2 separate regions of the Homo sapiens genome follow, and region 1 is linked to region 2. Evidence: fine-mapped QTL for protein levels in blood plasma. A gene starts in region 2. The other region holds a variant in brackets. All regions are shown on one strand. Distances are from middle to middle. Region 1 overlaps IFNGR1 (interferon gamma receptor 1). Region 2 holds the start of IFNGR1 (interferon gamma receptor 1).

Region 1 (16,591 bases), 25 kb before region 2:
TGCCTGAGAAATGCAAATGTATTTCTCCAACAGGCAGAGAAACTTAATTGCTATTGCACTGAGCTGGACCCCTTGGCTTGGGGTGGGGAAGACTCTGTGGATACATGGCAGGGGACACTGGCCAGTTGGCTGCATGGGGCCCAGGCCCCTGAGATCACCCTGGGGCTGGGGCAGCAGCTGTGGCTCAATCCTGCACTGGATGGCTGTTGGACACCACATGCACATGCAGCAGACAGTCATGCACCCCAGCCAGGAGGGAAGGGGGAATGGGGAGATGCTGTCTTCCTATCCATCCTACACATGTGCCTATGGCCATTGGGTTGGGAGTGGAACACCCCCAATATTGTAAAAGAAAAGATAGGTGCCATTACAATCCCCCTAAAAAGAAGGAAAATGCCATAGAAAAGACTGGGTTGGACTGAGGCCGATGTTCCTGACCCCTGAGAGCAATGGGGGGTTGAAGGGTGGGGTGCAATTTCCCCCATCCTTAGAAAACACCTGAGAACAAGAAAGCTCAGAAACAAAAGGGAAAGAAATGTTCTGGGTTCACATTTTACTCACCCAGGCAATGTCAGCTTTCTCATTATAACTTTTGGCTTTTGATTTTTTTTTTTTAATTTTACAATCTGGACAAATAGTGTTTTAAATACCTTTGTTTTAACCCCCTCAATTTCCATTCTATTTATTTCATTTCTTAACAACCATCCAAAGATTTCTATCACCCTTCTGGGGCGACTCCTTTGACTCTCTTTTGCCTTTCTCATTTTTTTTTAAATTACCTCAACATTTTATTAAGGATCTGTAAGACCCACAAGGGACAGCAAATTTGATACAACTTGTCAAACAATTGTATGGTTCTGTCGGAGAAATGTCACCTGGGATGCCTATGTAAAAGGGACCTCTTTAACCCCCAAATTTACCATGACCTGGGTAATAGGCATATAAAGTGGGAGAATATCCTGGTCATCATAAAGCCAGTACCATGTGGCTTGCTTATGAATCATATCTACTGCTTCATCTGGGTTACTCCACTTGGCATTTTATAGGGAGAGTTGGGCAGTCCCTTTCTTGGGGTAAACAGACTTTACAGTGGCATTTATCCAGTCCACTAGGGTTGGATGTTCTCTCAGGAATAACCTCCTATGCATTTGGATCACTTATACTCATTAGAGATTTAATAGTGAGCTGTGGGTCATGGATCAAACTAAAGAAGCTCTTTCACTCTGTAGCATTTAAAATTAAGGATTCTATCCTTAAATTAGTTATTTTTAAATCCATTATAGTAAAAGTGTCTCAGGAAGCTGACTATACCAATCTACAAAATGGAACAATTCCTTTACATTATAGCCTCTGGTTTTAATAGTTGTTTTGCCCTGCCCCTACATTTACTATCTTCTTGGTAACCACAGGTCTCAGAGGTAAACTTTGTTGCCCCGGTTTAATTTATATTTTTGTGAGTAGCTTGGATGCTAGAGGCTTGAGCTGAGACAGACCCACTTCTGGTCTTGGTCCACTCTTAAGGACCAACCCAACACTCTTTTACTCTCATTTCAGCTTTTACAGATAATAACCAAAGGATGAAACATTTTTCTTCCTTATTAGCTTGCCTTCCCTTATGCATTCAGGGAACTAACTCCCTGGGAGTATGAGTAGGATCCATCTCTAATTCCACTGGTAACTTTTACTTTTAGTAACTGACTATAGCCCAGCTGCAGCTCCTTAAGATGGGCAACCACATGGCTACTCAAGAGTCAGGATTTCTCATTTCACACCCTTTTATTTTTTTCTTTATCCATTTAGTTTTATCTATATAATTTTTTCCTTTATTTTAGAGTGATTCATAAATAGTCTCTAGAAAAAAATTACATTTTCTTTAGCAAAAACTAGTTCCTTGTGTTTTCAGAAACCTCACCAAAAACACCTTTTATTCACCTACTAGTTTAAGTCTTATTAACTCAAATTCCCAGTGGAAAAAAAACTCATAGGTTTACTTAATTTAAACATTACATGACTTATTAACCCAAATCCCCAGTGGGGGAAAAAAGTAACCTAGGTTTACTTAATTTAAACATAACATGACTTTAAGATTTTAAATTACTGGAAATAATTGAGATTAAATTTACCAAATTAATCTTACCAAAGATTACTAGTCATGTGAGCTAAAAGGCATCTGAGCTAGGTTCCATCAGTCTGATAAGCATTAACATTCTCCAAGCCAATTGATTAGAGCTCTTTTGTACCACTTGTTAGTGAAATATCACTTCCACATGGCACATGTAAACATGTAGATATAACAGACATATAGAAAACGGCAGGTCCAAAAGATTTTTCATTTGCCTCTTTTCAAAAATTCTCTCCCCTACTTTAGATTATTAATTTAAAAAAGTTATAAGGCCAAACAAAAGTTGAAGGAGAGAGTTACCATCCTAGGCCTTTTCAAAAGCGAAAAAAGGACTGAGATATCAATTTGAATAATTTCAAAAAGAAACATTACAGAATTTAAAAATTAAAAACTTTGTGCATTGAGTAACTCAATATTTTAAATAAAATCTTGTTCTAACCAAATCTTTAGTTATTTATTAGTGTATTTTTTTTTGAGACAGAGTCTTGCTCTTGTTGCTCAGGCTGGAGTGCAATGGTGCGATCTCAGCTCACTGCAACTTCTGCCTCCCAGGTTCAAGTGATTCTCCTGCCTCAGCTTCCCAAGTAGCTGGGATTACAGGCACCTGCCACCATGCCCAGCTAATTTTTTAATTTTTAGTAGAGACAGGGTTTCACCATGTTGGCCAGGCTGGTCTCGAACTCCTGACCTATATGATCTGCTCGCCTCGGCCTCCCAAAGTGCTAGGATTACAGGCGTGAGCACCGCACCCAGTCTAGTGTATTTTTAACATAAAAGTTCAATTTAAAAAAAAGATTATAATTTTCTGTAATTATGGACAACTTAATCACATAACATTTGTATAAATTTCTTTTTTACTAACTTTATTATGACTTACACAGACCATTCACAACATGCTTGGACTTTCTGCTTTGACCTAAGTGTCACTCTTTCTGGAATAACTCGGTCATTTTATCTTAGGACAAAAATTCACCAAACAATATTTTTCTCATACAAAATTACTTTTCTTTTAAGCTTTCTTACCAAAAATACCTCTGTATATCTATACTTTTCTTTATATTGGTCTATTTCCTGGTTCCTTTCACATTCTTATTTATACAGGACTTTTAAATAAGCTTTGAATTAGACAAAAATTATTTACCTTTTAATAAGAACATATTTTAAAAAAAGAATAAAATATAATTTTTTGAATTGGAAAATACCCAGATATTTAATTAAATATCTATTATTGAATTTAATATAATTTTATATTCTAAATTATGACAAGTTTATTTACAGGTATTTATCCCTTTACATTTACCTGATTATTTTATTTTAATATTTTATGTAGACTATGAAAACTGTGATAGTCATCATTTAAAGTTATTTCCCTGTCAATGATTTTTATAGCCTATGAAGTTCAGGTGTTTACCTAAGTAAGAACCTCAGGATTAAATATATGGTTATTTTACCAATAATTCCAAGTTTAGCTGTTTTCATTAAACCAACAATATTTGATATCTTGTTTGTCAAAAACTACACAAGCAAAGATCATTCTGTTTTGGGTTGGTGTATTAGTCTGTTCTCACATTGTTATTAAAAAATCCTGGAATTGGGTAATCTATAAAGAAAAGAGGTTTAATTGGCTTACAGTTTTACAGGCTATATAGGAAGCATAGCAGCTTTTGCTTGGAAACTTATAATCATGGTGAAAGGTGAAGGTGAAGCAGGCATGTCTTACATGGCTGGAGAAGGAGGAAGAGAAGGTTGTTGGGGAGGTGCCACACACTTTTAAACAACCAGATCTCATGAGAACTTACTATCACCATGACAGCCCCAAGGGGGATGGTGTTAAACCATGAGAAACTACCCCATGATCCAATCACCTTCCACCAGGTTCCTCCTCCAACACTGGGGATTACAATTTGACATGAGATTTGGGTGGGGATACAGATCCAACCATAACGGTTGGGTTTACAGTTTTATAAACTTTATGTCAAATTTTGACACAGAGTATTTGTCAGGGATAAGTATGAAATTGCTGATCAATAAATGCAAACAAAAATATATGTTGACAATTTATAAGACATTTCTAATATTACTTGACCAATAATTTTAAGCCAGTTTATTTATAAAAGGTTTTACTTGTCACATGACCTTGAAAAGCATTTGGGCTTATTGTTTAATGTATGAGTACCCTTCAACTTTAAGCCATTTTAGTACCTTGTGGCCAAAAACACATAATAAAATACATGTTTGTACACATAAACACACATATACACACTCATACAAAGATCCTGTTGCTTTCACTTCAAAATTTTAGCTATGAGATATTAATATAAACTTACCAGTTTGCAAAAACAATAACAAAAAGAAACGGTTGGATGCAAACAGTGGATTTTATCTCAGTAGAAATGTGTTAATAATAGCAGACAAAGCAGGTGGAAAAGAAAACAGAGATAGAGAACTTAGGAACTTTAGAGTTGCAGGTTGAACTTTAGGTTCTGAATTTTCCTTGATGTAATTTGCCCATCAGTTTAAAATGCGCACAAGAACAGACCTAATGTGTAACCAGCTGGAGTATTAGAAAACCTGGCACGCCCTTCCATTTACACAACCACTTGCAAGTAGAGGCACCATGAAACGAAATGAGGTGCCTGAGAGGCCTTGTTCTTGTTTTTCCATATCCTTAATTTATTCCCCACATATTTTCTTAAAAGGAGGAACTGAGCTGTGGCCTAAGTTTTAGTTTAGTGGGTCAAAATATGCTGATTCTGGGTGGGGCTCCACAGTGTGTCACCAGTGAGTCGTTGCCACCCTCTTATGTATCTCAGTTTCTCTCTCTGGAGGTTTAGACCTCCGAGTGCTCAAAACATGGAGTTCCTACATGAGCTTCCTGGATGAACCTTTTTAAACTAATTTTGCTGGGGGTTCCCTGTAGGGCGGCTGCATTTCATGGGGTTGGTAGTCAACCCCTTAGGCTCCACCCCAGTAACCCAGGGATGCCTTTTGGCTGGAAGGAGCAAAATGCCCTTTCTTTTCAGAGCTTAGGAAACTCAGTCTGACATTTATCTACAAAAACAACAGTTTAGTTGCTCTCACAAATACACAGACAAGCCAATCGAGATTAATTTTGGGAGAGAAGACAATGAGAAAGCTCTTTAGAATGCACCTCTGAACTAGAATTAGGATCCTAAACAACAACTTCATTGGTGGGGGCAGCGGGGTGGAAAAAGCTAAGACCAGCTGTAAACTGTCCTCAGCCACTCCTAACTTTATAGCTCTTGTCTGCCATTACACACTCCAAGGTCACATCTTCTCACAGTACAAGGTAATCTCTGGTGCCCGCAAAAGCCAAGAGGGTCAGGTAATGCAATACAGGAAAGCAGAGTTTTAAATCTAAGAAGAATCTGCCCATGACTCTTGAAACCCCACAAAGAAAACAGAACACCCCAAAAGGGGGTGGGAGTGGTGCCTTTGTTCTGAGTTCTTTAAGGGGTCTGAGACATTAGAACCCTTCTGTAGATTTTTCTTGGTACCAGAGATGGTGAAGGGGGAAGGAAAAATAGAGTGGAACAAAAGTAAACAGAAGAATAACTGTTTTTTGTTTTTTTTTTTTAAGAAAGGAAGTGAACACAGAAACCAAGCACATGTTTTTGTTTTTGTTTGTGCAGCTGCCAGGAATTTTAGCCAATTCAGAGGCCTTGTTTCCCCTAATTTGGAATTCTCATTGGAATTTGACCAAGTCTGTTATAGTTGATCAAATCCTATGGGAGAAAGATCAGAACAACAAAAACCCCAACAATATGATTACTGAGTGCTCTAACGGTAAGGAGAAATTAAAACCAGCTGCTTGTCAATTTCAACTTGTAGTCATTAAGGAGAATTTCCAAGACAAAAAAATCCCAATTCTTGCTACTTACCTAGGAATAGAGCCCTGGCACAAGATTGCTCTTTACCATCTTAGAAGCAGGAAAAATACCTGGAAAGGTGCACAGGAACAGACATAAGGTTCTTGCCTTCCCTATCGGAAACTAGCTGAAACTCCAGAAATGAGTTACCTGCTATGCATCATCATGGAAGCAGAAAAACTTGCTTTCCTTGTTGGAATCAAGTAAAACTCCAGAAAAGGAGTTGTAGAGCAAAATAAGCTTTAGATCTCGACCAAATTTTGAGAGATCAGGGATTCTCTGGAGGGGGAACTCCCAGGCCTCAGCAAATTGTCCTTCTGATTTGAGCCATAAGGATAGCTCAAGCTGGTACCAAGCACCAATAGATTCATCAAAGGTCAGGGGCACCTCCACTCAGAATCCCTTCATCACCAATTTGTGAACTCAAAAGTATCTGAGACAGATCTCAATACATTTAGACGGTTTATTTTGCCAAGGTTAAGGATGTGCCCATGACACATGTGCCCATGACACAGCCTCAGGAGGTCCTGATGACATGTGCCCACGGTGGTCAGGGTACAACTTGCTTTTATACTTTTTAGGGAGGCATAATACATCAATCAATACCTGTAAGATGTACACTGGTTCAATCTGGAAAAGCAGGACAACTTGAAGTGGGGGCTTCCAGGTTATAGGTAGATTTAAGAATTTTCTGATTGGCAATTTGTTGAAAGAGTTATGTTGTTACCCAAAGACCCAGAATCAATAGAAATACCTGGGTTATGATGATAAGGGGTTGTAGAGACCAAAGTTTATCAGGCAGATGAAGCCTCCAGGTAGCAGATTTCAGAGAGAATAGATTGAAAATGTTTCTTATCAGACGTAAGTTTAATGCTGGTCAGCTTTTCCTAAGTTCCAAAAGGGAGGAGGGTATACTGAGTTATATCCAACTCTCCCTTCCCATCATGGCCTGAACTAGTTTTTCAGGTTAACTTTACAATGCGCTTGGCCAAGAGGGGGCGTCCGTTTAGATGGTTTGAGGTGGGGAGGGCTTACAATTTTATTTTTGGCTTACATAGTAAAGGTTAATTATCTCAATACAATTAGGTCATCTTCATTTTTCTTTTAAAAACTTTTGTCTTCCTTTATCTCCCTGAATACACAGGCAGTTTACTATTTTCTCATTGCAAGACCCATTCTCAAATATTATTTTCTTTTAGAGAGACTCTTGCTGTTATTTAGGTTCACAAGATGGTGTCAGAAGTGAAATAAAAGTGGCCTCACCTCAGATGGATCAGAGGCCCCTCGAATTGAGTGAAGTACCTACTGACCCCTTTGGCCCTCACCTCTTTTTATACCAGGAAAGGGACTGGCACATCTCTGGTTATGTAGCAAAAATGTCCCATAGCCCAAGGGCTGGGGTCTGACATCCAGTCTGACTACATACCTGTGTTGTTCAGCTCCACGAATTTTCCTTAAAAAGGCTGTCTGAGAAGCCAATGTGTGAGTGTTCTCTACTACTCACCTTTTATTGGTAGATATCTGCTCAATATTTAATTTTGGAGATACATTGTGGGTATTATAACATTTTATAATTAGCTCTAGAAAGGACACTCTGGGAATGTGCTAGTCAGAACATATCTCTGCCACTCTTTCCTCTCAATTAAATATCTGACACTTATCTCCTGGGCAGAGGAGATACTGGAGCAAAGAGAGCTTGGGGTACGTGGTTAAGCCTTAAAGCCCTGTAACAGTACCAATGGAGAGACCAGTTATTATTTGCAGGGCGGTGGAAGGTAGAGTAAGTATTGCATCTCATAAATGAAGCTAACTAATGACTATACAAACAAAGCTGGCACTTATTTTCTAAGTCATCCACTTATATCCTTATCAGGCATAAGAAGTGGTACCTTAAATTGGACCCAGGCAGTAATCTTAAGACAATTTAACTTGGCATGAATAATGGTTCAATAACGTGAATTTCTGGTAACCAGAAATAAGTAGGGGAAAAAAAATTAAGTTTAGACACAAAACTGTGTTGGAAAGATGATGCTTTAATTTTTTTTTTTTTTTTTTGAGACGAAGCCTTGCTCTGTCACTAGGCTGGAGTGCAGTGGCGTGATCTCAGCTCTCTGCAACCTCTGCCTCCTGGATTCAAGCGATTCCTGCCTCAGCCTCCTCAGTAGCTGGGACTACAGGTATGCACCATCACGCATGGCTAATTCTTGTGTTTTTAGTAGAGACGGGGTTTCACCATGTTGGCCAGGATGGTCTCAATCTCTTGACCTTGTGATCCGCCTGCCTCGGCCTCCCAAAGTGCTGGGATTACAGGCATGAGCCACCGCACCCAGCCAATGCTCTTACTAATTAACACAAATGGAAGCAATGACTCTTAAGAGCCAAAAGATAGAGAGAATGTAATCCAACCCTCTCATGAGGCTAAGCGATTTGCCCACAGCCACCAGGTTTGGTCAATCACTCTTGGAAAATAGCGTATACCAATTCATCAAAGTTTGAGGACAAGGGAATAAAAAACAAAATATAATATTGGTGATGAGAAGGCAGGATTACTCTTATTTATAGACAACACGTTTGTACACTGGGAAAACCAATCAACTAAAAACCATGAAGAAAAAACAGTTTAGATGTTGGCTAGATACAAAAACAACTTGTAACAATAGTTTGTGTGTGCGTGTACATATAGACAGCCATTCAGGAGCCACAATGCAAGATGACATTCCCATAGGCAACAAAAAACATAAAATATCAAGGAATACACTTAGTAAATTTTCTACACCTGTATGAAGTAAACCTCTAATGAGGGATGTAAGACTTGAAGACAGAAATAGTCTCCATTCTTGCAGAACATTCAACCCTTGAAAATATTAGTTATTTCTAAACATTTTATAAAGTCAAAACAATGCCAACATAAATCCCAAAGGAGTTTAAAATTTGGGGGAAAACTTGGCCAAAAAATTTAGGTTATAGTTCACCTAAAAAATAATTATTGCTGGCAGGGCGCAGTGTCTCACACCTGTAATCCCAGCACTTTGGGAGGCCGAGGCAGGCAGATCATGAGGTCAGGAGATCGAGACCATCCTGGCTAACATGGTGAAACCCTGTCTCTACTAAAAATACAGTAAGTAAATAAATAAATAATTATTGCTAAGAAATATGAGCAATGAACATTGGCTGAAAGTATTCAGGAAAGCCTCAGAAGTCAAAACAGCCTGTAATTGCAGCACTTTGGGAGGTTGAGGTAGGCAGATTGCTTGAGCACAGGCATTTGAAGCCAGCCTGAGCAACATGGCAAAACCCTGTCTCTACAAAAAAATACAGAACATTAGCCAGGTATGGTCATGAGCGTCTGTACTAGCTACTTGGGGGGCTGAGGCAGGAGTGTTGCTTGATTACAAGAGGTTGAGGCTGCAGTAAGCCATGTTCGTGCCACCGCACTCCAGCCTGGGTGACAAAGCTAGACTCTGTCTCAAAAAAACATAAAATATATCCCAGTATAATGTGTATTAAAAGTGTGATACATAGACGGGAAAAGACTGAACAACAAAACTGTTCCAGGAGTGCTGAGAATTTGGCATGTGATAAATGTGACATTTGAAATCAGCATAGAAAAGTTAGATAATTTAATGAATAGTATTTGGGATAACTAATTTGTTAAGGGAAATATATGAGTTGAGTTGTATCCTCAAAAAGATGTGTTGAAGTCCTAACCCCTGGTACCTATGAATGTGATCTTAACTGGAAAGTGTCTTTACAGATGTAATCAAGTTAAGAGGAGGTCATACTGGATTAGAGTGGGACTAATCAATCCAATTGACTGGTGTCCTTATAAAGATCTGGACACAGACATACAGAGAAGAATGCCAGGTGACAAGAGGCAGAAATTGGAATAATGCAGCCATAAGTCAGAGAATATCAAGGATTGACAACAATCACTAGAAACTAGGAAGGGGCCCTCCACCCCTAGAGCTTTCAGATAGAATCTGGCCCTATTGAAACCTTGATTTCAGACCTCTAGCCTCTGAACTGTGAGATAACAAATTTCTGTTGTTTTAAGCCACCCAAGTTTGTGGTAATTTATTACGGCAGCCACAGGAAACTAAAACAAAAAAATAAAGCTGGATCTCTATCTCTGTCCTCAAAGGAAAAAAATCTAGATGGATAGAAGAATTAAATGTAAAACAATCATCACCAAAGACCAGAAGAAAACATGAGTGAAAACTTCTATCTTTTGGGGAAAGGGGAAGGGCTTTTTAAAAATAGAAGGAAATAAATAAATTTGACTTTATAAACAACTTAAACATCTGTGTGGTAAGTCAAAAGGCAGGAAATTATAAAATAAATCTGTAACTCAGGGCAGATAAAGGGTAGTAAGAAAGATATAAACAGCCCATAAAAAAATGGACAAAGAACAAGATGAGTTGGCATGAAACTATAAATAAGATATAAAAACATGCTCAAATTTACTAAAGAAATGCAAATGCATTTAATGTGTAAAGTGTTTTACCGAGATTAAAGACTTATTTCAGTCAATTAGCTAGGGTGTAAAAACAGGTACTTCATTCACATTTGATGGGAGTACACATTGGTATAATCATTTTGGAGGGTAGTAAGTATTACCTCTTCCTTGGCTATTTCAATTATTTTCATATTTTTGCTTTTCCCATTCTAATGTGTGCATTGTTCATGTAGTTTTTTTTTTTTTTTTGTAATTTTCCCACAAGAGAGATCAAAGTCTGTTGAAGGATATTACTTTTGTGGAATGTGATATGTATGGGGTATCAGTTTGAAAAGCAATTTACAAGACATTACCCTAAAATCAGTGACTATACCAGTTCCACTGCAAACCACACCACTACTTTTTTCACTGATAGTATCTCATTTGTAATTTGCATTTTTAAGTGAAGAGAAATATCTTTCCAGAAACCAAAGAAATGTGATTTGCTACTCATGTAAATTGTATTTCATTTTTTTTGGTCCATTAATTCACAGATTCATATTAATTTCTGAATATTTCTATCCTCTTAGTAATTCCAAGAAATCCTTGGGTAACATATATATTAACTCTTGGTTTGCCTCTCACTGGGGATTCTTTCCACACCATGTAATTCTCAAGGTTCCATCCATTTCCATGGCTCTGCCCACCACCTTTATGCTAGATTCCTCAATCCACATGCTCTACAGCTAAATCTTTTCTTCTCAAACCACTTAGAACAGTGTTCTGCACACTGGGTGTTAAGCACTGAAATATAGACCTATAAGGACCATTTAAAAATATTATTTTTAGGGTTGTTTTAAATATTAAATATGAACAATTAGCAAATAATCCTATAGCATTAATGCATGGAAACAAGCAGTGGATATAAAAATATTCTGCTTAACTATGAAAGACTGCCTAAGTGCTTGAATAAATGAATACAAAAACGAGTTTTAAAATTCTTTATTTAAAAATCTCTAACTGTAATGTTTCATAAAAAATATACACGTTTCTATTTACATATTCCATTAATTCTATTAGTTTGAATTAGATTTTAAGTCCAATTTTGAAAAGCTTGCAGAATTTCTTCTGAAATTACTTAAAATTACTGTATGCATAAACTTACAAAAACATATGCTATACCAAGGCAGAGAAAAGAAAAAAAGTGAAGTGGCTACAAAGGTCCCTGGGGCATCACCTGCTCACCTAGGAACCAGGAGTACTGGATACTGTTCCGTTACTGGTAACCTATCTGGATGTAAAGGTTCATAAGTTACAATGCTTTTTTTGTTTAAAAAAAAAAAAAAGTCTGTACTTTACAAGCCAAAAGTGAAAATGCCACACATCCTCTTTACGCTTTCATGTACACTAAGTCACTCCATTTGGTTGATACCAACTAAGATACAATTTCTGAGATCATAATCTTTTCATGAAATTAAAGCAGAAAACTGTC[C/T]AGGAAAATCAGACTTCAAAGTTGGTGCAACTTAGCTGATCTCATGAAAATTCTTTGGAATCTTCTGTTGGTCTATAACCAATCAAGGACTCTTTACCGCTATCATCCACAAGTAGATCCACTAGCACATGTGGTTTATCATAACCAAAGGAGGTGGGGGCTTTTATTACGGTTATGAGCTCTTGTCCTTCTGTTTTTATTTCACCTTTATTATTTGGGGGAAATTCTGAGTCAGATAAGGAGCTATGTGATTCCAGACAGCTGGAATCAGTATCAAAACCATTTCTGGAGTGATCACTCTCAGAACAATTTCTGGAGTGATACGAGTTTAAAGCGATGCTGCCAGGTTCAGACTGGTTACTACTTAAAGGTGAAGAACTCTCTCTCTCTATTGGAGTCAGATGGCTGCCCGGGACCACGTCAGGAATATTTTCTTCAGTAGTCACCACTTCTGTTATACTAGAAAGTTCTTCTGTATGTTCCACTTTTCCTGGATTGTCTTCGGTATGCATGCCTGGAACTGTTGCTGGAGACAACGGCTCTTCACAGACCACCTCCTTTTCTAAGGAAAATGGCTGGTATGACGTGATGAGTGATACATATTTTGATTCAGGTTTTGTCTCTAAAGTAGCACTTCTTACCACAGAGATCTATGGGGAGAAAAATTGATTAAAGATAAAAAATTGTTAAGCTTAAGTGCCTACCCTCAAAAAAAACAAAGGTCTGAAGTAATGGACCACCAAATGGCACATTTAGGATAATGGGTGAATCAGATGTTGCCATTTCTTTTTAATGAAAGGTCCCATAGTAATATTAAAAACAAAGTTTTAGAATTTTTAAAAAGCCATCAGATATCTTACTAATATATGTTGCTTTTTGTACGTTACTGTGATGGTTAATACTGAGTGTCAACTTGATTGGACTGAAGGATACAAAGTATTGATCCTGGGTGTGTCTGTGAGGGTGCTGCCAAAGGAGATTAACATTTGAGTCAGTGGGCTGGGAAAGGAAGACCCGCCCTTAACCCGAATGGGCACAATCTAATCAGCTGCCAGCATGGCTAGAATGTAAGCAGGCAGAAAAATGTGAAAAGAGAGACTGGCCTAGCCTCCCAGCCTACATCTTTCTCCCATGCTGAATGCTTCCTGCCCTTGAACATCGGACTCTGAATTCTTCAAGTTTGGAGCTTGGACTGGCTCTCCTTGCTCCTCAGCCTGCAGATGGCCTATTGTGGGACCTCTGATCGTGTGAGTTAATACTAAATAATACTAAATAAACTCCCCTTTATATATATATATATGAAAAATATAATTAATATATATTATATAATATATAATTTATAATATATAATATATAATTTATAATTTATAATATATTATATAAAATATAATTTATATTACATAAAATATATAATTTATAATATATTATATAAACATATAATTTATAATATAATATATAAAATATATAACTTATATTATATAAAATATATAATTTATAATATATTATATAAAATATATAATTTATAATATATTATATATAATATATAATATATATTATATAACATATAAAATATATATAATATATAATATATAAAATATAGATTTATATAAAGGGGAGTTTATTTGGTATTATATATATATCTTTATATATATATTCCATTAGTTCTGTCCCTCTAGAGAATCCTAATACAATTATCTTCCACATGTACGCACATTATGTTTACAAAGTGGGCACATCTACTTAAGTAATATTCTCATTACTTGCCTTCATCATTATAATTTTTAGTAGCTCATATTATTTCTTTATACTGATAAATAATTTAATAGATGGGGAAATGTTTCCAATTTTTACTAGCTATGGAACATGTTAAATATCCTGTACATCTTTTTATTTATGAAATTATTTCCTTATAATACATTTTTTAAGAGTGGAGTGACCATATCAAAGAAATGGTATGTTTACGTCACTATTACACTGAATACCCACTGTGTGCTTTTATTCTTACCAGGGCTAGATTACTTTTCACCAGCATTTACCCGTTATGCTACTGCTGGTACTACTGGATATCCAGGTTTCTTTTTTCTTCTCTAGCGCGTGTAAAATGGCATACTGCAAGGTTACTTTGTGCTTAATTACTAGTAAGAATAAAATATTATAATTCATTTGTGAGTTGACTACTAACTGTTGAGAGTTCTTATCCACTTTAAAGGTAGTTTATAGCAAATTTTAATGTGCCCTTTGAGCATCACAGATATTATTCCTGTCATATTTGACTCAAATAGATACTATTCTGTTACCTTTAAATGTTCTTTACATCAAAGGCTTTGAAATGTTGGACATTAAAATCGTCAAACTCCTACGTTAGTCTCATTTTTGGCCAACTTTCCTTTCATACTCCAACCATAATGAAGTGTTTCTGTATTTGCAGAGCTTTCAAAGTCATGCTTTCTTGGCTCTGGACCTCAGCACATTCTGTCCCCTAGTGCCTAAACTCCTGTATGTCCCTCAAGACTGCTCAGGCATTGCCTCTGGAAAAGCCATGACTAACCCCACCCCAAAGCTGGACAAAGTCCTCATGGGCTCAGGTATAAATCTTTGAATCTATCACACGTTATATAGCCAATGTATATTTATCTTTTCTTCCCCCTAGACTTTAAGATCTTTAACAGAATTGTCTCACCGTGTTTTTCCCTGAGAATAAAAAAAAAAACAAAATACTTGCTGCACAGCAAAAGACACAGTATGTGATTTTGCATGTGTGGTAGACTGACTGATTGATGGCAGGTGACATCTTGTTGAATATCATTCTACTTTAAAAACATAATTTAAGAAACTATCAAAAAAGGTTCAAGTTAACTTTTTAGTGTATATAAAAAAATTAAATACATTACCAAGGACTTGGGTAATATTATGCTTTTTTCCTTCAATGGATTAATTTTCTTAATATAAAAACAGATGAATACCAGGCTAAGCACTAGAAAGAGTAGTAAAGCAGCAACAACTGGAATCCAAAGAGAACCTTAAAAAAGGCAGAAATCACAAGTTACAATTAAGATGGAATACTGCTATTATCTATCAAAAAGTCTTAGTGCCATTCTTGAATAGATTTACAAATTAGTGAATAGGGCCAGAGTTTTAAAGAACACTGAAGGAAGCAGAAGTTAGGAAATCTGAGTAAAAAATTAGGTATCTGTCTTAGATAGCAATATGGTTCTTCCCAGCTCTGCAATTCTAGAACTTTCTGGGACTATTCTACTATGACACAACATAGTTAAAATAGCTTTTCTACAATAATTTCCTTACAGCCCTACATACAGTGTGTTTCCAGGGTTATGCATTTCTTTCGGTTAAAAATGCAAAAGAATAATTTTAAAAATACCTCTCCTTAGAAACAAATTCTGGCAGCTGGGCACAGTGGCTCAAGCCTGTAATCCCAGCACTTTGGGAAGTCGAGGTGGGCGGATCACGAGGTCAAGAGATCGAGACAATCTTGGCCAACATGGTGAAACCCCATCTCTACTAAAAATACAAAAATTAGCTGGGTGTGGTGGCATGCGCCTGTAGTCCCAGCTACGTGGGAGGCTGAGGCAGGAGAATCGCTTGGACCTGGGAAGTGGAGGTAGCAGTGAGCTGAGATTGTGCCACTGGACTCCAGCCTGGTGACAGAGCGAGACTCCATTTCAAAACAAAACAAAACAACAAAAAAAAAAAGAAAGAAATTCTGGCAATGTTTATTGCTCTTAAGATGATTTAGCCCCACTCCTCAGAATTTCCTGTTACATTTATTTCACGACTGCAAATACTTATAAAGCTTCACAGATGTACATGCACACAGCAATGCTGCACAGGAATAAAGTCCCCTTAGTTATAAACCAGACATAAATAATATAAAATAGGAAAGATTTGTTTCCAAGCACATACATCTAGAATCACCATTGTGTACTTTGCTGTAATGCTGCCTTTTATTTTTGCAGCACAATCTTCAGTATTTTTTTTTTTTCATAGTTCTCTCTTCCAAATTAACAGCACTCTAACATACTGTGACAATGTCCGGCATCCTTTAGGGCATTTTGTTACCCAGAATTTTCTAACTATGGAAGTTACTAATGAATGCTTCTATTACGCTTATTACAGGGTGTGAAAAAAGTTAAATCATTACAAAAGTAAAAAGGAAAATAACTACAAAACCAACATTAGTGCTGTTAGAAGTCCCACGGGCTGAGCAAGTGCTGGCTGCAAGGCATTGAGGCAAGCAGGCAGGGCTGCTGCTCAGGAGCCACGGCAATGCCACCGTGTGGCCATACTATCAGTGCAGTGTATAATTCAGGCTAAAAACAAATCTGCGGCATTTGCATTATTTCAAATTTTGAGCATTAAGAAGGGTTTTATTTTTCAAATAGCATAACGAAAATTAGCATAAAATGCATTGCACTGCTTTAAATCACCTATTTGAAACCTTCATATAATGGCTTGAAGTTATTAGTATTGAATTTTAGGTGTTTGTTCTGGCTCTTCAGCCTATATTTCCATTCCTCGAAAATATACTTGCATCATAAAATTTTAAACCTATGAAATCTATTCTAAAAAAATCCTAAGGAAAAAAATATATGTATACACACACACACACACACACACACACACACACACACACA
Region 2 (16,591 bases):
ATAGATTTGGTTATTGCCAAAAGATCTAACTTCTATATTATTTACCAAAATGGTGTAATAATTTGGGCCAAAAGGTTGAGATTATCAAGCTGGGGAGGGTCTGAAGATTCAAATACTTCATACTACTAACTTGACCTTTTTGTGGCCAGTGACCAGACACCTAGGTTTTCTCCTTCTGCTTCCAGAGGCGCAGCTGAAGGCTCTTGGTACCTGCCATCTCTGGTTCTCTAAGCAACTTCCTTGTAGGTGATCCCTAAGGCACTGTTCTTGCCAGAGTAGCCTTGGCTCTTTGTTTTTTGTAGAGTTCCCATGGCCATTCATAGCAGGGGATACTGAGGCTTCCTTAAGAGGGTCTTTTTTCTATCACACGTTTGCATCTCAACCTCCTGAAACAACTCAAATACTTCACAATCCATATTTTAGGTAGAAATAAAAGTCATTCCTCTTCACCTGGGTTCAATCAACATTAATATCAAATAACAATCACACATATAAATATACTTTTTCAACCGGAAAACAGAGGTACTTGATGCTAAGAAAACTCATACTAAATCTGAGCCTTCCTTCGGAGACCATTTCTTCATTTTGGCATTTTTTTGCCTCTCGAGAGGCTGAGAATTTTCAAACCAGGTGGTCCTGGTTTCTTTTTAACAGTTCTTCCCATGATTGAGCAAAGTCTCACCTGTTACTATAAGACGCAAGAAGAAACCAGGTGGCACTTTCAGCACTCTGGTTAGAAACCTCCTGAGCTAGATCACACAGCTCCTCAGACATTCTCTACTTTTGGTGTCACTGAAGGCTACAGTGTCACTCAGCTTTCTGCCACTACATAGCAAGGACCCCCCTTCCTCTAGGTTTCCAAGACTGGAAATCCTTTGCTTCCTTTTAAGCTCCACTCCCCTCCTTTTGAGACAGAGTCTTGCTCTGTTGCCCAGGTTGGAGTGCAATGGCATGATCTCTGCTCACTGCAACCTCTGCCTCCTGGGTTCAAACGATTCTCCTGCCTCAGCCTCCCGAGTAGCTGAGATTACAGGTTTGCACCACCAGACATGGCTAATTTTTGTATTTTTAGTAGAGATGGGGTTTCACCATGTTGGTCAGGCTGGTCTCAAACTCCCAACCTCATGAATCGCCCACCTGGGCCTCCCAAAGTGCTGAGATTACAGGTGTGAGCCACCGGGCCCAGCCTAAGGCTCTCTTTTTAATTATACCCAGTAGGAATGGCTTTATAATGGTATACGCTCAACCTGAAATTCCTGTGAGAAAAAGGCATATAGAAGTCAATCTGCATACTAGAATATCAAACAAAGTGCATTTGTACTTAGGAAGGGGCTACTGAATCACACAATGGAAAACTACAAACAGGAGTAGGCTTGTGCAGCATTAGATTAGTTTTTAACGTGAATCAAAGTATGTTTCCTATAATTTAAGTAAAAGCCTGATATGGTTAGACTAGGACAAGGACTTAAATCATAGCTTTCAAAGCAAGACAGACAGGTGGTAGGAGGAAAATATTTCAATGGTTTATAGCAAAAAGAAATTACTACTAGGTTAAAAGAAAAACTTATAAATTTACACCAAAAGATGTAATCTGTGGTTTTTAATGCTACCAGAGGAGAAACTGTGTGGTTATTAGACATCTGCCTTTGTTTTGCCAAATATTATTTTTTGCCAAATATTATTTGCCAAAATAATATGACAGACATAAGCAGTTTTCTTAAGCTTCAGAATTTTGTAATGTGAGGTTTAAATTGTTATATATTCAGATTAAATTAATTAAGGCTTACAATTAACTTCTAATACATTTACACTATGTAAATAAAAATATATGTAGAAACAGCAAAAGAGTATTATTATCTCTGGGGCTTAAGAAAAGATCTTACCAGAGTGATTTCATGAAATAAGATAATCTTACAGATTTTCCCATCTCTTGAAAATGCCAAGATAGTTTTGTGTAACTCATGTTGCTTTTGGAAATGGACTCAGAATTATTTAGTGTATTACATCTGCATACTATCCGGAGTAAACTTTAGCTATTTTAAGATCTAATTCCCAGAACTCCCCTACAACTCACAGCTGATAATTTAAGAAAACTAAACACAGGAGAGAAGAATTTGTTTTTCCTAACACTTTAATTACAATGCAGAAAAAAAAAGGAGGGCCCTGGTTAAAGCCAACTGTTTCCTCAGAAAGCTGATAAGCCAGAAGAGACAGGATATGAAAAAAGAGAGACAACACAAAAGACCAGTGAAGATCAGCAGGTGATACAGAGCAGTGCTATCGACGGGACCATAACAATGTCACAAAGGACCAAAAAATAGCAGTCGTGATAGCTCTGCAATAAATGTTGGTGAATGTAGGGTGGATGGCAAACTACAGATACCTGCAGAGTATAGTCTGAAGACACTGGCCATTTCCTCTGCATAGCTGGGTGACAGGAACCAGGGCTGCTACCTGAGTCCATCCTGTAACCACCAAAAGCATCTGTGTCTCTTTAAAAAAGGACAGCCCGAGGAGTTCATCACCCATCTTAACACACTAGTGTAAAAAGACTGTATAAAAGGTTTGTACATCTATGGTGGAACAGGGCTATGGACTCTGCAGAAATCATCTGACAACCTGCTCACCAACCTCTTCATGGGAAGAGCACGCTGAGAAGCATAAGGAAGTGAGGATGAAGTAAACTGTTGTTCTGGATTCTAAGTCATCTGACACTACAACTCAAAAACAAATGTTTCAAATTAAAGCATCTGGATCTTTTCCTTAAGAACAACTCTCAGAGAAGATCTAACACCTTCCCCATGTTAAAGATACAGGGACAGGAATGGGGACTGTCACAAAGGTTTCATCTGCACAGCAAACAGAACCAGCATAAGAAATCCACACTGAATAAATGAAAAGTACCAAATCAAGGCCTTTGTATTTTTGTCAGAACATATTTGATTACAATCTCCCTCCCGAATGGCTTCCAGTGGTGATAAAATGACTATTTTTCTTAATGCTTTCCAACTTTCACCGTAGCAAGGAGCCGCATCCCCCAGGTTTAAGCTGAGTACAGACATTTTGATAATTCTTGCAGGTGATGTTTCAAGTGTTCATTGAAATCTTCTAATTGAAATTTTTCTTTTTAAAGAGCCAGGCATAACACATAGTGGCCTGCAGTGAACTTGTAAGTAACTAACCTCCCCTATATTTTTCCCTCGCACCACCACCAAGTTGGGGCTTATCCAATAAATATCTGCTCAGCCACTTTTCTGACTTGAAATCCAGGGCTTTATTCTTACTCCTATTTATCCAATTTCATCTAGTTGGGTTTGGTCTGGCATTAGTTCTGACTGGACCAGACCAATCTAGTCCCTGAGAGAAGTCATTTCTCAACACTAATTCTCTTTTGGACTAACTCATTCTGAATTGAAAAACAGTTGAGGAAATGAAAAAACAATGCAGGCCTTTCCAGTCTACTAAAAAACCAAACTTTTTTGTCTGTTGGAAGAGATGGAAGAATGAGTTAGCTGCTGAGCCTGTTTTAAGTTTCTCATACTGATCTGGTTAAGTTTGTTTTTTTAAAAGCCAACACAATTTCTCACATATGACTAAGGGAATTTAATATTTAAAGATATATTTGTTAAAATAATAATGCACATTATTGAATAATCCCTAACATATTAAGTATTTACTACAAGACACACAGTGTGCTTACCTTTTTAATGCATTACCTCAGATACTCATCACATCCATCCCGTGAGGGAGACAATGTTACCATACATATTTTACCAATGAGAAAACAAAGGCTTAGAGAAGTTACGTAACTTGACAATATGCAAAGTTTTGTTGGTTTTCATTAAGAAAAATGCTTCCAACATCTTTGTGATCGTTTAATAAAATAAGGGGTAAATTACCTCCATATTTAAATTGGAATTGGAGAAGACTATTTTCTGGTGACTTCAAAAGCATCTGCTTCAGGTAATGTTTCCTGATTTTATTACATTATCACAATTATATTATGGCCACTGCAAAAGTTGAACAATGCATTAAAATGAATAATTTCTTAAAAATACACAAGACCTAAACAGATACCTAGTATTCTGATTACTATGCATTAGGATAATCTAAAATAAAGGCACCCCTTTAATAAGAAAATTACAAGTAAATTCCTTTCTGTTAGGAATTCACTTCATTCTGGTTCAAACCTCATTCTGATTCTTTGTTCAATCAAAATTGAACCATTAATTACTCATCTGGTTTGTAAAGCAACTTCACTACTGGTATGCTGCCAAATTTTGTAAGATAGCTGTTTATTACTTTTCTTTAGGTTTTCATACACAAACACACACACACACACAAACACACACACAAACACGAGAGACAGAGTCTTGCTCTGTTGCCCAAGCTGGAGTGCAGTGGTACAATCATGGCTCACTGCAGCCTAGACCTCCTGGGCTCAAGTGATCCTCCTACCTCAGCCTCCCCAGTAGCTAGGACTACAGGCACATGCCACCACACAGGGTTAATTTTTGTATTTTTTTGTAGAGATGGGTTTTGCCATGTTGCCCAGGCTGGTCTTGAACTTCTGGGCTCCAGTGATCCTTCCGCCGATGTGCTGGGATTACAGGCATGAGCCACTGCCCCCAGCCTAGGTTTTCTTTTAGATAGAACCAAAATATGGTCCTTTCAAAGTCTGTGTGAATTATGAATCAGAATAAAATGAAAAAGAAAATTTAATACCCTATTCAATAAATATAATTAAAAAGTATTATCCTGTGTATTTTGAATCTCTGAAATAACTATAGAATCCAAAGAAATAGTGAAAAATTTAAACAGTACTCAGAGCTTTATCCTAAAGTCAGATAATTAGTAGGAAGCATAGCTGATAAACTGTACAAGGTCAGTGAAGAGCCTTCCAGTTGGTGTGAAGTCCAGCCTAGCTCTTCAGCTATTACTCAGAGTGGGACACTCATCTGGATGAAGAAAGCCAGTGGCACACCCTGATTCACTTAAAAATATATACTACTTTTATGTGTAAAAGTGCATGAAGAGTGAAATACTACTGATTAAGTGGCACACACAGATTTTATTTTCACTTAAGAAGTATTAATGAAAGCCCATGAATGTAACACAATACATTCCTAAACACCTGGATTTCCTGGAGACTGACTATATCACCATATTCACTTGTCTGCTTCCCTGTTCTTACCAGGTCCTCTCATCTAAGATGAACTTCAACTATAGAGTCAAGCCCAGCAACAGTAAGAATAAGGCTGGGAAGCTAAGCAAGAGCCAGAGCATTGTTGGTTTCTTCCTACTTTGGAGATTTTGTGTTTTAAATTAACTTTAAAAGAACAGGGAACACAACAAAATCTAGAGAAATGCACTGAAAAATCTAGAGAAATGTGTTAGAAATGCACTTTAAAAAGAGGGCTCACTGAAACTAATGAAAAGCAAGGCCGGGGTGCTTGTCTCTTCTAGGGGAGTCAGGAAAGGCTTCACAAAAGTGACCCCAGTTTTAGAACGAGAGGTACAGAGACAAATTCAAAAGTTTCTGCAGAATATAGAAGGCTGCAGTTGATCTTCCCACGGGAGGCAGACAGGCAATCCTCCTCCCAGAGCAAGCTACAAGGACGTGCAAATTGTGCACTCACAGGGGTCACACGGTGCACTCATAGGGCCCCGTATTCAGAAGGAAGGGCCTGGCACTTGCTTTAACGCTATGCCTGCGCTAGCGTTATCCTCTTTCTCTGCTGACATCCAGTCAGAGGCCTACTAACTCTTCCTTCTAAATGTTCTGCTAACTGTCCTCTTCTCCACTTAAACTACTTATCGACTCCAACTTAAGCAGCAGCCTCCTAATGGGCCTTGTGTTTACCCTCAAACTATTTTATAAGATGACTGGTCTTTCTAAATGGCATGTCTGATCCTGCATAAAATCATTTCCCTTTGTAATTGATAATCCAATGATGTCAGCATTAGTAAATAATGACTGACTTCAGCAAGGCATAGTGGGTGTATTATTTTGTTGGCTCAACACCTGTACTTCAGGCACGCCATTCCGCTTCTTCTGGTAACCCAACCCAACCCTCTACGAGAATGTCCTTCCCATGCAAGCTGGCACCTGAACCTAGCTGGGCAAATCAGAGCCTTTCCCTGGCATTTTGTTAGAATGGAGGAGGCTGCAAGATGTCAAAACTCAGAAGCTGTCAGCATCCATGATTCCTGCCAAGTGTGGAAAGCTGTCAATACCCAGACAGAAATAAGAAATGGAGAGTCCTAGCAGTTTGGGTTCCTGGTTCTAGCCTCTTGAGACCCAGCTGGCATCTATAATTTTCTGTTTAACTCTGGTTTTTCTGAGACAATAAATTCCTCTTTTTGCTTAAGTTAATAAAGCTAGGTTTCTTGCTGGTACACATAATATGGCAATTCATTATTTGGTTCCTACTTCTCCACCTAACCTATCTCCTCCCCTTGTAAGCTCTCACACACACTTTACAATAGAACGCTTAATATTCCACGAATTCAACATGCTATCACACCTCTGCACCTCAGTCTCTGCACCTCTGGTTCCAACACTGGGGTCACCTTTGTGAAGTCTTCACTGACTTCCCTAAAAGAGACAAGCACCCCGCCTTGCTTTCCACTAGTCTGTGCCTAAGTGCAAGCTCTTACCGCAAAGTACTGCAACTGCCCATGTGGATGACTGACTAGAGCCTAGAAGAGCAGTTAAGAACTTGGACTCTGGAGCCAAATTGAGCAGCTCCCCACTGAGTGGCTATGACCTCTCTGCCAGTTGGGCAGGCCTCTCCGTAACTCAATTTCTCGTCCATAAAGAGAGAGACAAATAACGCCTACTCCAGAAGATTGTTGTGAACACAGAACCAAAACGTGGACCTTTCAAAGTCCCTATGAATCATAAATCATAATAAAAAAAAGAAAACTGAATTGAAAAGGTTTACTGTTTTCTCTGGAGCTCGTAATCACAATTACTCTGCACTTCAGAAAAGCCACCCTCAACATTTGTTTTCTAGGAAATGTCAATAAGCAGGTGGAAATAAAATGCTCCGAAGAACAAACCCGTACGAAGAGACCTACTGCCAAATCTGCTAGTGAGTGCCGGCAATCCACCACTTCCAGACTGAGACCTAAGACGGACTGCCACTTACTTCTCAGCTGCCACTTACTTCTCAGCTGGCGACATAATGCATACTTTCCTACCCTAAGCACTTTGAGTCCCCCCCCCCACCCCCGCTAAGAAAGAAGTATTTAAGCCACGAACTGAGACCACGATGCCACATGCTGATCAGGACACTCACAGTCATGCGTCACTTAACGATGGAGATCCGTTCTGAGAAATGGAGAAATGTCCCCTTAGGCAATTTCTTCGGGCAGTAGAAACCCAGACAAACCCAGATGACACAGCCTACTGCTCTTAGGTCATGAACCTGTACAGCCTGTCACTGCACTGAACACTGCAGGCAACCGTAGCATACTAGTGAGTATCTGCGTATCTAACCATAAAAAAAGGTACAGTAAGAAGACGATATTATAATCTTTGAGACCACGCTGTCCCACATTGACCAGCAACGTCCTTCTGCAGCGCATAATCGTATTTAAAAGTGGATTACAAGAGTCGGAAAAACAAGCGGCGTGATTTGTTGTGGCGGCAACCAGGGAAGAGGCAGGAGAAAGGCAACCGACGAGTTCAAACCACGGAGCCCCAGTCTCGCGACCCCACCTCGCGTCCCCGTCGCCCGCTCAGGGCCCGACGCAGGGGTCCCGGGCTAGGGCGACCTCGGAGAAGCGGGGCGGGGCTTCCCGGCTGGGGCGGATCCCTCCCTCCCTCTCGTCCCGACCCGGCCGCAGCCCTGCCGCGAACGACGGTACCTGAGGACGGCCCCAGATCCGCGGTGCCCATCTCAGCCCTGCTCACACCCTGCATGACAAGGGGTAGGAGAAAGAGGAGAGCCATGCTGCTACCGACGGTCGCTGGCTCCAACCCCGAGCGCCTGCGGGACCAGCCCAGCACTGCCCTCCAGCCCCGGCCTTACGTCACTTCCGTCACCGGGGTCTGTGCCGGCGTCGGCAGGAGGCGGGACCAGGGCGTGGGCGGGGTCAAGTCCGGGAAGCCGCAGGAGGCGGACTCAGGCGCAGCACCCAGCAGTGAGCACGGCGTCGTGCGGTCGGGACCTGGACTTCTGGGTGTGGGAGGAATTTGAGTGCAAAGGTTAAGGTCTTTCAACCTGGCACCCCATTCTGCAATTCTTCTTCCAGTTTTTTTCGGTTTCCTGGGGTTGTGCAAGTTTGCATTAGGCCACAGCCGAGCCACAATCCTTATTTTACTAACTCTTGGACTTCACCTGGTTGTCTTGGAGCCTGACATTTTTAGAAGAGAATGAGACTTCAAAAGCCATTTCCAGTCCCTGCTTTTTCATTTGAGGAACCTGAGACTTAGCTAGTGAAATGGTTTGTGCAGATTCCCACAGCCCAAATCAAATCGGCTTGACCAAGAACTACTTTGTTCTTGGAGAAAAAAACTATTTGCATTACCTTCTCAGCAATTCAGTGTCAAATCAGTTTATCAGGCAGCCTCTCATGAAGAGGTCTGCTCTCTTACCTCTCTGGGTTTGTCTGTTATTTTGCATCTCTCCTATTCCACTGCAGCCACATTGCTAAGTCCTTCAGCGCTTGTGCTCAAACATGCGAATGTCTAATGATCTCACCTGTTTCAATTCTCTGAGTATCATGAACTTTTGTTAAAAATTTTAAATTGCAACACACCTTCTCCTCCTCCTTACCCCGCCCTACTGTTTTTTCATGGCACTTTTCACCTTGCTGTACACTATAATATACACCTTGATATTTGTTTTCTTCTCCTTCTAAAATGTAAGCTCCGTAGAGCTGACATCTTTACTTGGCACTCAATTAGTATTTGTTGAGTGAAAGACTGCATGATTACTAGTGTTAAGGAAAATTTTTAAAGAGGGAAAATCCTTATAAAGACACTATATAAACTAGAGGTATTATCAGCCAGATCATTTTACTTGTATTAATAAATCTCTTAGCTCAGTACTTCTCAAACTTCAACATACATGTGAACCATCTGGGGATCTTGATAAAATGCAGATTTGGATTCAGTAGTTCTAATTCAGGTTGGGTCTTGAGATTTTGTATTTCGGACAAAATGCACAGGGGATGCTGGTGCCCCTTTCAACAGGACCACACTTTGAATCAGAAGAATTTAGCTCAATCTAGACTAAGTTTAGGGAGAATATTTCCTTTGATGTGTTTCTGATGTCCACTATATGAAAGACACCTTCTAGTCGTTGTAAGGATGCAAGGATAAATAACTGATCTTTACCGTTTAGGCGTCTATGGAGTAGGACAAAATATGATATCCAGTTTGTAAACATTTTTGTGGTACTTGTCACAGGCTGGGTTACCCTGGCAGTAAACTCTGAGGTCGAGATTAAGGTATAAGGCATTGATTGATTAGGGAGTGCTCTTGGAATAAACGTCTGTGAAGGGGAGGTGGAGGAAGCAGAGCGGAGGAAGAAGTTGATCTGTGATGCCATCCCAGTAAAGGCTCCCAAGGGGCGCTCTGGAGTTGGGATGGCCTTGTAAAGGTGTCTTGAGTTGGTATGAGGGGCTGGGTCTTAAAGCCCAGCACTGATTAGTCATTGAATACCAACTGTCATGATTTTGGGGCTGTCCATTTCTTTCATGGAGGCATTCCCCAGAGGAACGCTGACGGTTGAGGGTGTCTACTGGCAGCCCTCCTAGCATCAGGAAGGGGACAGAACCCAGTCTTCTGTTCCTGAGAGGGATCTGGGCAAGTTTCACAATCACAGCACCCACCACCCTACGTATCCTTCTGAAGACTTTGCTAGTTAGTCATTTGGAGACTAAATATATTTATTAATTGGGTGAATATTATCAAGTGATACTGTCTGTGACTGACATGACCAGGCACAGAGATAAAGACCTGAGCAAGACAGACATGGCCCCTGCCCTCACGGAGCTTACTGTCTACTGAGGGAGATAGCTGTTAAACAAGGAATTACACAAGTACTGAAATCGTGATCATCATTCCCAAGGAGAGCAATGGGAAGAGATTAAAGGAGTATAAACAGGAATTTAACTTAGTCTACATTTTAAAGAAAGTCTTTCTTTTCTTTTTTCTTTCTTTTGAGACAGGGTCTCACTCTGTCGTCTAGGCTGCAGTGCAGAGGCATGATCATAGCTTACTGCAGCCTCAAACTCCTGGGCCCAAATGATCCTCTTGCCCCAGCCTCCCAAATAGCTGGGACTACAGGTGTACACCACCATGCCTGGCTAATTTTTTTTTTTTTTTTTGAGACAGGGTCTGACTGTATCACCTAGCTGAGGTACAGTGGCACAATCTCAGCTGACTGCAACCTCCACCTCCCGGGCGCAAGCCATCCTTCCACCTCAGCCTCCCAAGTAGCTGGGACCACAGGCATTTTTTTGTGTCTTTTGTGGAGATGGGGTTTCACCATGTTGCCCAGGCTGATCTCAAACTCCTGAGCTCAAGCAATCCGCCCACCTTGGCCTCCCAAAGTGCTGGGATTACAGGAGTGAGCCACCTCGCCTGGCCTTATGCCCGGCTAGTTTTTAAATTTTTTATAGAGCTGGGGTCTTGCTGTGTTGCTCAGGCTGGTCTCAAACTCCTGGGCTCAAATGATTCTCCTGCCTCAGGCTCCCAAAATGCTGGGATTACAGGTGTGAGCCACTGTGTCTGGATTTAGGGAAATTCTTTTTTAAGGAAGTTACCATTATGTTGTGACCTGAAGGATAAGGTAAAATTAGCCTGAATAAAGTTAAAAGATGGGGGTGGCCACCGGCTAATAAGAGAGGTAGGAAGAAGAGCAATAAACTGTATTTTAAAATCCCATATAAAAATCTCATACAGCTAACACAGAAACAAATGAGCGGTGCCAGCTTTCCTTGATAAATTTCCAATGCCTAATGGCTGGGGAATATCCAAGTATACGTTGGTCCCCACTAGAGCCTCAGATTAGTTTTTAAAATGAAGAAAACAAATTGGGGTGGAGCGTAGATCATTCCAAAGCCAAGTGTATACTGAAGTGCTGCTGCTCAGGAGCAAGGCTACATTTTGAAGACCATACTCACCTGCCTTTCAAGTTAATAGGCCAAATAAAACAATTTAAGAAGCTAGAAATATGATCCAATGAGAACAGAGCCTGTGTGTGTGGAACAAACTGTGCATTTTGGCTCTGAGCACAGTGCATTTCCTTCCTCTTTTCTCCAAAGCAGAAATGTCTGCCAGCTTCCCTTTAAAGGAGACAGCGTGAAGATTTGTAACTGAAGCATATAGTTTAAATTCCGCTGATTAGTCTGTAAATTATAGCCAATACTCTTGCCCTCTCACACTCTACCCATGCCTTTACACTGGCCCTTATTTAACTTTGTTTATTCCATAGTACTTACTACTATCTGGAGATTCTACTGGAAATTTAATATATCTATTAAATTTGAATTAAATATGAATAAATTGTATGTGTTAAATATATGCATTTTATATATATATATATTTCACAAATAATTACTGAAATTGTAGTAATTGTTACCAAGGAGAGCAACACGATTATAGGTGCGTAAACAGGGACTTAATCTGAGATTTAATGAAATGCATCCGTGTGTGTGTGCATACATAAAATATGTATATACACACGTAGAAAATTTTGTTTCAGTAGTCTCCCTCTTCCTCTAAAAAATAAATTTGTTTTCTTCACTGTCAGACCCCGAGCACCTAGCCAAGTGCCTATTACTCCATTAATATTTATGGAATATTGATGATCCTGAATCATCAATTGTATGTAATCCTGAATCATCACTGTCAGCATTGAGCAGCTGAACCAATGTCTGTGGCCACTTATTAAATAAATATATGATGAACAAAACAAGCTTGTAAAGAGGTGTGGGACTGAAGCAGGTATAGTTGAATTTATGGCTGGCTAAGCTATAATTGGGTCACTGATAAGAATTTAGAGAGATATTTGGATATCATACTGGTACTCAACAAAGCACTATCCTCTTGCCTTGCACTCAACCCTCCTCTTAGCTCTCATGCTGACATCCGATTGTATCAGACCAACCCCTGGCTTGAAGATGTTTATCCATAGACAGTCAAGTATTCTAGTAGTTGGCTTGTCTTAGAGCACTGCCTAGGGTAGATGCCACATGCTGCGTGGTGACTGTGGCAGATACTACTCATTAGCTGACTGCTAACAGCTCTTTTCGGTCCCCTTCTATCTTGCTGCCTCCCTACTGCAGAGGCTAGACAGGCTCATTACTCACTTTCCCAGCCTTTTTGGCAGCTAAGTGTAGGTATATGATGTAGTTTTGGTCAGCGAAACACAAGCAGAAGTCTGTGAGGCATGTGTGTGTGTGGTGGTCATCAGGTGTATAATGGGGAAGAGGATTGGAAAGCATTCTGTGAGAACTTTTCCTTTCTCATAGAAGGGGCAGATGCAATGGGAGAGTTTGCTGGCCTTGGCCCTTTTCCAATCTTCTTGCCTTGAATGTAGATCCAGTGACGCCTAGATCTGCAGCAGATCTTGGCAGTTTGCAACCATGAGGCAACAAGATTGAAGATGAAAAGTCAACAGCTACCAGTGGAAGAACAGGAAGTTAGAAAGCCTGAATCATCGTCAGCATTGAGTTTCTGAACTAATGTCTATGACCACCTGCCTTTGGCCTATGGGAGAAAAAAATAAACCCCTGTTGATTTAAGTCACCATCAGTTCGATTTTCTGTTAATCGTGCAGATTTTTTTTTTTTTTTTTTTTTTTTTTACTCAATGTCAGGCCAACCTAAATAGATTGGCTTTCAGAGAGTTGGAATGTAAACCATGATGGAGAAGAGGATGACTGAGTGGAAGGGAGAAAGGAGAAAAGAAGAAACAACAAACTCAAGTACAGGATGTAGAAGACTAGAATAGTAAGCAAAGAAGATCACTTGTTGAGGGGAGAACAAGAGGCCCAGCAGCCAGAGGCTTAGCAGAACTGCCATGTGCCCCGAATAGTGCTCCCTCACTGTGCTCCCTGGGCACTAGCTCATTGGCGAGGCTTTCCTCTTCTGATGTTCCCACACATCTTCACCAACATCCCTTGTCACTAAAGGTAACCTAAATGTCTCTGTTCCTTGCAACTAAAAGAGCGCAACAGGCCAGGTGTGGTGGCTCACGCCTGTAATCCCAGCACTTTGGGAGGCTGAGGTGGGTGGTCACTAGGGCAGGAGTTCGAGACCAGCCTGGCCAACATGATGAAACCCCATCTCTACCAAAAATTCAAAAATTAGGTGGGTGTGGTGGTACACGCCTGTGGTCCCAGCTACTTGGGAGGCTGAGGCAGGAGAGTGGCTTGAACTGGGGAGGCGGAGGTTACAGTGAGCTGAGATTGTGCCATCGCACTCCAGCCTGGGTGACAGAGCAAGACTCTGTCTTAAAAAAAAAAGAAAAAGAAAAAAAAAGCACAATGAATTTCATTTCTAGCCATGAAATTTTTGGCCATTTCAGCATCATAAAGGGCAGCTACCCTATTCTTTTAGAAAACATTTCCCAATATAACACTAAACACCAGGCTGAAAAAAACTGTTGCTAAAAAGAACTGAGTAATCTAAAGCAGCATGCAGTTTGTCCTCAGAGCCTCATACTTCCTCTTTCAGTGCATCTTCCCCCTCCAGTCTCCGTACTTCCTTCACCACACACCAAAGCCCAGTGACTTCTTGCTGCTTCTCAGAAGCCCAGAGTCCTCCTACTTGGAGAATACCAAAAACTTCCCTAGCTCACAAGGCTTCAGCTGAAAGTGTCTCTCCATCCTTATCTTTCATCAACATCTAGGTCAATGGTTCCGTAGCAGATGCTCTTAGATGGCTCTGGGTAATGATAGATGAACAAATTGAACAAATTAATTTATTGACATCAATATTTGATAACCATTTTGGGGTGGACACTCCTAGATATTTTGACATTCGAACAGTTCTTAACTAGAAGAACCAATGTGTCCAGTGGTGACACTGGAGGTCTTGACAAGAAAGGATACAATAAGATAGTTTGCCTTGGGCAAAAGGGTCTTTTGGGTGCCTTTCAAATCATGGTATGATGGCTCATTTTTCAAAAGGCAGGCTCAGAGCCTAAATTCAGCCAACAGATGTGTTTTGTTTAGCCAGCAGAGAGAATTCCATTTTCATTGGTTCTAGGCAGGGCACGTAGTCCTGTTAAGTTTTAAGTATCTATATTTAATGTGATTATCTTGAATGCCAATACTAGATTTCTAGAGCAGAACACTTTTCTTTTTTTTTTTTTTTTTTACTTACAGCAAATAATTTTGTCAGCTCTCTTTTGTCCCAGTTCTTATCTCTGGGGCTATGCAATGAGACCCAGATGTACATGTAGGCTGCACATGTCATCCTATATGTAATGGTGTCTACTGTAAGTGAGGACACCCTCCAAAATGAATCTGGGCATTTATATAGGAGAAAGGGCCAACTTTCCCCTCCCGCTGTGAGAAAAGACGAGAAATCCATTGCTCCCTGGTATAAACACATTCTCCTTGGGAACAGAAAGAAAGATTCTGGGAGCTTAGCTTTTGGAATGTAAATAAATTTCCCCACTGGAAAGATGAGACTAGTGTCTCTGGCTTTACATCCCAGGAGATGTTTCCATGGTCCTGGGGGTTTAATTCTTCCTTGAAATGAAAACGCAGGTATCTTTGGGGAGGTAAATTTCTCTGGCATTCTCACTAATCACTTCGAAGTTAACACCAGGCTTGTCCTTTTAGCTTAGATTCCAAGATTCAGTAAAATGGGCTCAGAAAACCCTAACTGTTCAGAAACGTAAAAATATTGTCTCTATGGCCCACAATTCCACAGTTGAACCACACGCCTATCATCTCAACTGTCTTACACTCTGCAGCTTGATTTTTGTTACCTTTTTGGTTCTTACTTGTAGGCATTTGTCAATGATGGGATTTAGAACATGCTACCCGAAAATATGGTACTTAGGCATTTGGAGAAACAGCAGAAGTGAGAAGGTGACTCTCTGACTTTTTCCCACACTTCTCCCCTGAAGCAGGTTATAAAAGAAATATCGGGGCCGGGCGCAGTGGCTCATGCCTGTAATCCTAGCACTTTGGGAGGCTGAGGTGGGTGGATCATCTGAGGTCAGGAGTTCAAGACTAGCCTGGCCAACATGGTGAAACCCCGTCACTACTAAAAATACAAAAATTAGCCAGGTGTGGTGGCACACACCTGTAATCCCAGCTACTCAGGAGGCTGAGGAAGGAGAATTGCTTGAACCTGGGAGGTGGAGGTTGCAGTGAGGCGAGATCCCGCCACTGCACTCCAGCCTGTGTGATGGGAGCAAGACTCCATCTCAAAAATAAATTCTTGGGCCTTTATCTGAAAGAGGTCATAAGGCCACATTACAGAGTGCCCTTTCTATGTCAGGAAGGAAGGAATTTTTTTTTTTTTAATCTCTGATGACACAGGGACACAGAGAAGTAGCTTACAAGCAGGCTTGCTAAATTCCCCTCAGTTTATGACCATTGGATCACAGCCTTTTGTCCTCCAAGCACACTTCTGCATGGCTGCCCACTCTTCGTCAAACCTCAGCATAAAAAAACACTTATATTAAATACATTTGTATGCGCTTCTCTTGTTAATCTGTCTTTTGTTATAGGTGCCTTGGCCATGAACCTAACAGTGAGTGAGAAAAGAATCTCTTGTCCCCTACATCATCAAGTTATAACAACCAATACTTTGGTCAAAGAATGTATACTTGCTAACATTTAGACCTTTAAAAAGAGAATTGAAATACACTCCATTTGTGTGAATGAAAAATTTATAATATGTCTTTTCGGACAAGAAATCAAACAAAAATGAAAATGTAATTTCTTACTACTCCAGATTACATAGAGGATAACTGTATCTGCATGGAAATGTATCATCTGAGAAATGGGTTCATTTTGTCACAGAAATCCTAGTTGCTGGTTAGGAGTGAGCAAGACAGTCTTTAGTCAGTCAGGCATTTTGTGAGTGAGACTGTGCAGCACCGTGATCGAGCATGAAGTCCCCGAGGCTGGACTGCCTGCATTTAGGGGTCACACCACCACTGCTTTATCATGTGATCTAGGGCAAGGGACTTGTCTTCTCTGTGCCTCAGTTTCCTTACTTGTAAAGTGGAGATAGAATAATGTACACAGCATCGGATCTTTGTGAAGGTGAAATGAGATAATTATGAAAAATCTGTAGTCCTCTGCCTGACAAGTCACATTAGCTGTGTTATTAGATGAACGTTAGCTGTGTTATTAGATAAATGTTAGCTGTGTTATTATTTGCTACATCACCTCCCTGCTCCTCTGTGATTTAAAGAGAGCTTATTCTCTAATAGCAAATGAGAGAAAGAGAGAGGGAGAGATTTGTAAACTAAAAAGGGCATCACAGTTTTATTTCTTTGACTTGTAATGGAAGTTTGGGCCAGCTCTGGCAAGAACGCCACAAGGAGCAGTGAGTTCTACTCAAAGTGGTGAGGAGTGGTTAGGAAATTTTTTAGAGTAGG

Evidence for each region. PIP is the chance, under the fine-mapping model, that this variant and not a neighbour inherited with it causes the effect. The UK Biobank Pharma Proteomics Project read protein levels with antibody pairs (Olink). The fine-mapping took linkage between variants from a reference panel, not from the people measured, so its PIPs are less certain.
Region 1: its variant is fine-mapped to the plasma level of the IFNGR1 protein (UK Biobank, PIP above 0.99).

The regions. Positions count from the first base shown.
Region 1 is chr6:137,186,051-137,202,641 of GRCh38, forward strand. It overlaps IFNGR1 (interferon gamma receptor 1), which reads right to left. Exons shown (of 7, transcript NM_000416.3): 6 at 14,831-14,958; 7 at 11,435-12,589. The coding sequence ends at 11,981. Among named protein-coding and RNA genes, the nearest start is that of IL22RA2, 21 kb to the left of the region's middle. The variant C/T (reference allele first, on the strand shown) is at 11,940.
Region 2 is chr6:137,211,368-137,227,958 of GRCh38, forward strand. IFNGR1 (interferon gamma receptor 1) reads right to left here and starts at 8,018. Exons shown (of 7, transcript NM_000416.3): 1 at 7,876-8,018. The coding sequence starts at 7,960. RefSeq lists enhancers at 6,158-6,217, 7,658-8,388, 8,239-8,488, 16,368-16,457 and silencers at 7,199-7,248, 7,709-7,928, 7,969-8,198.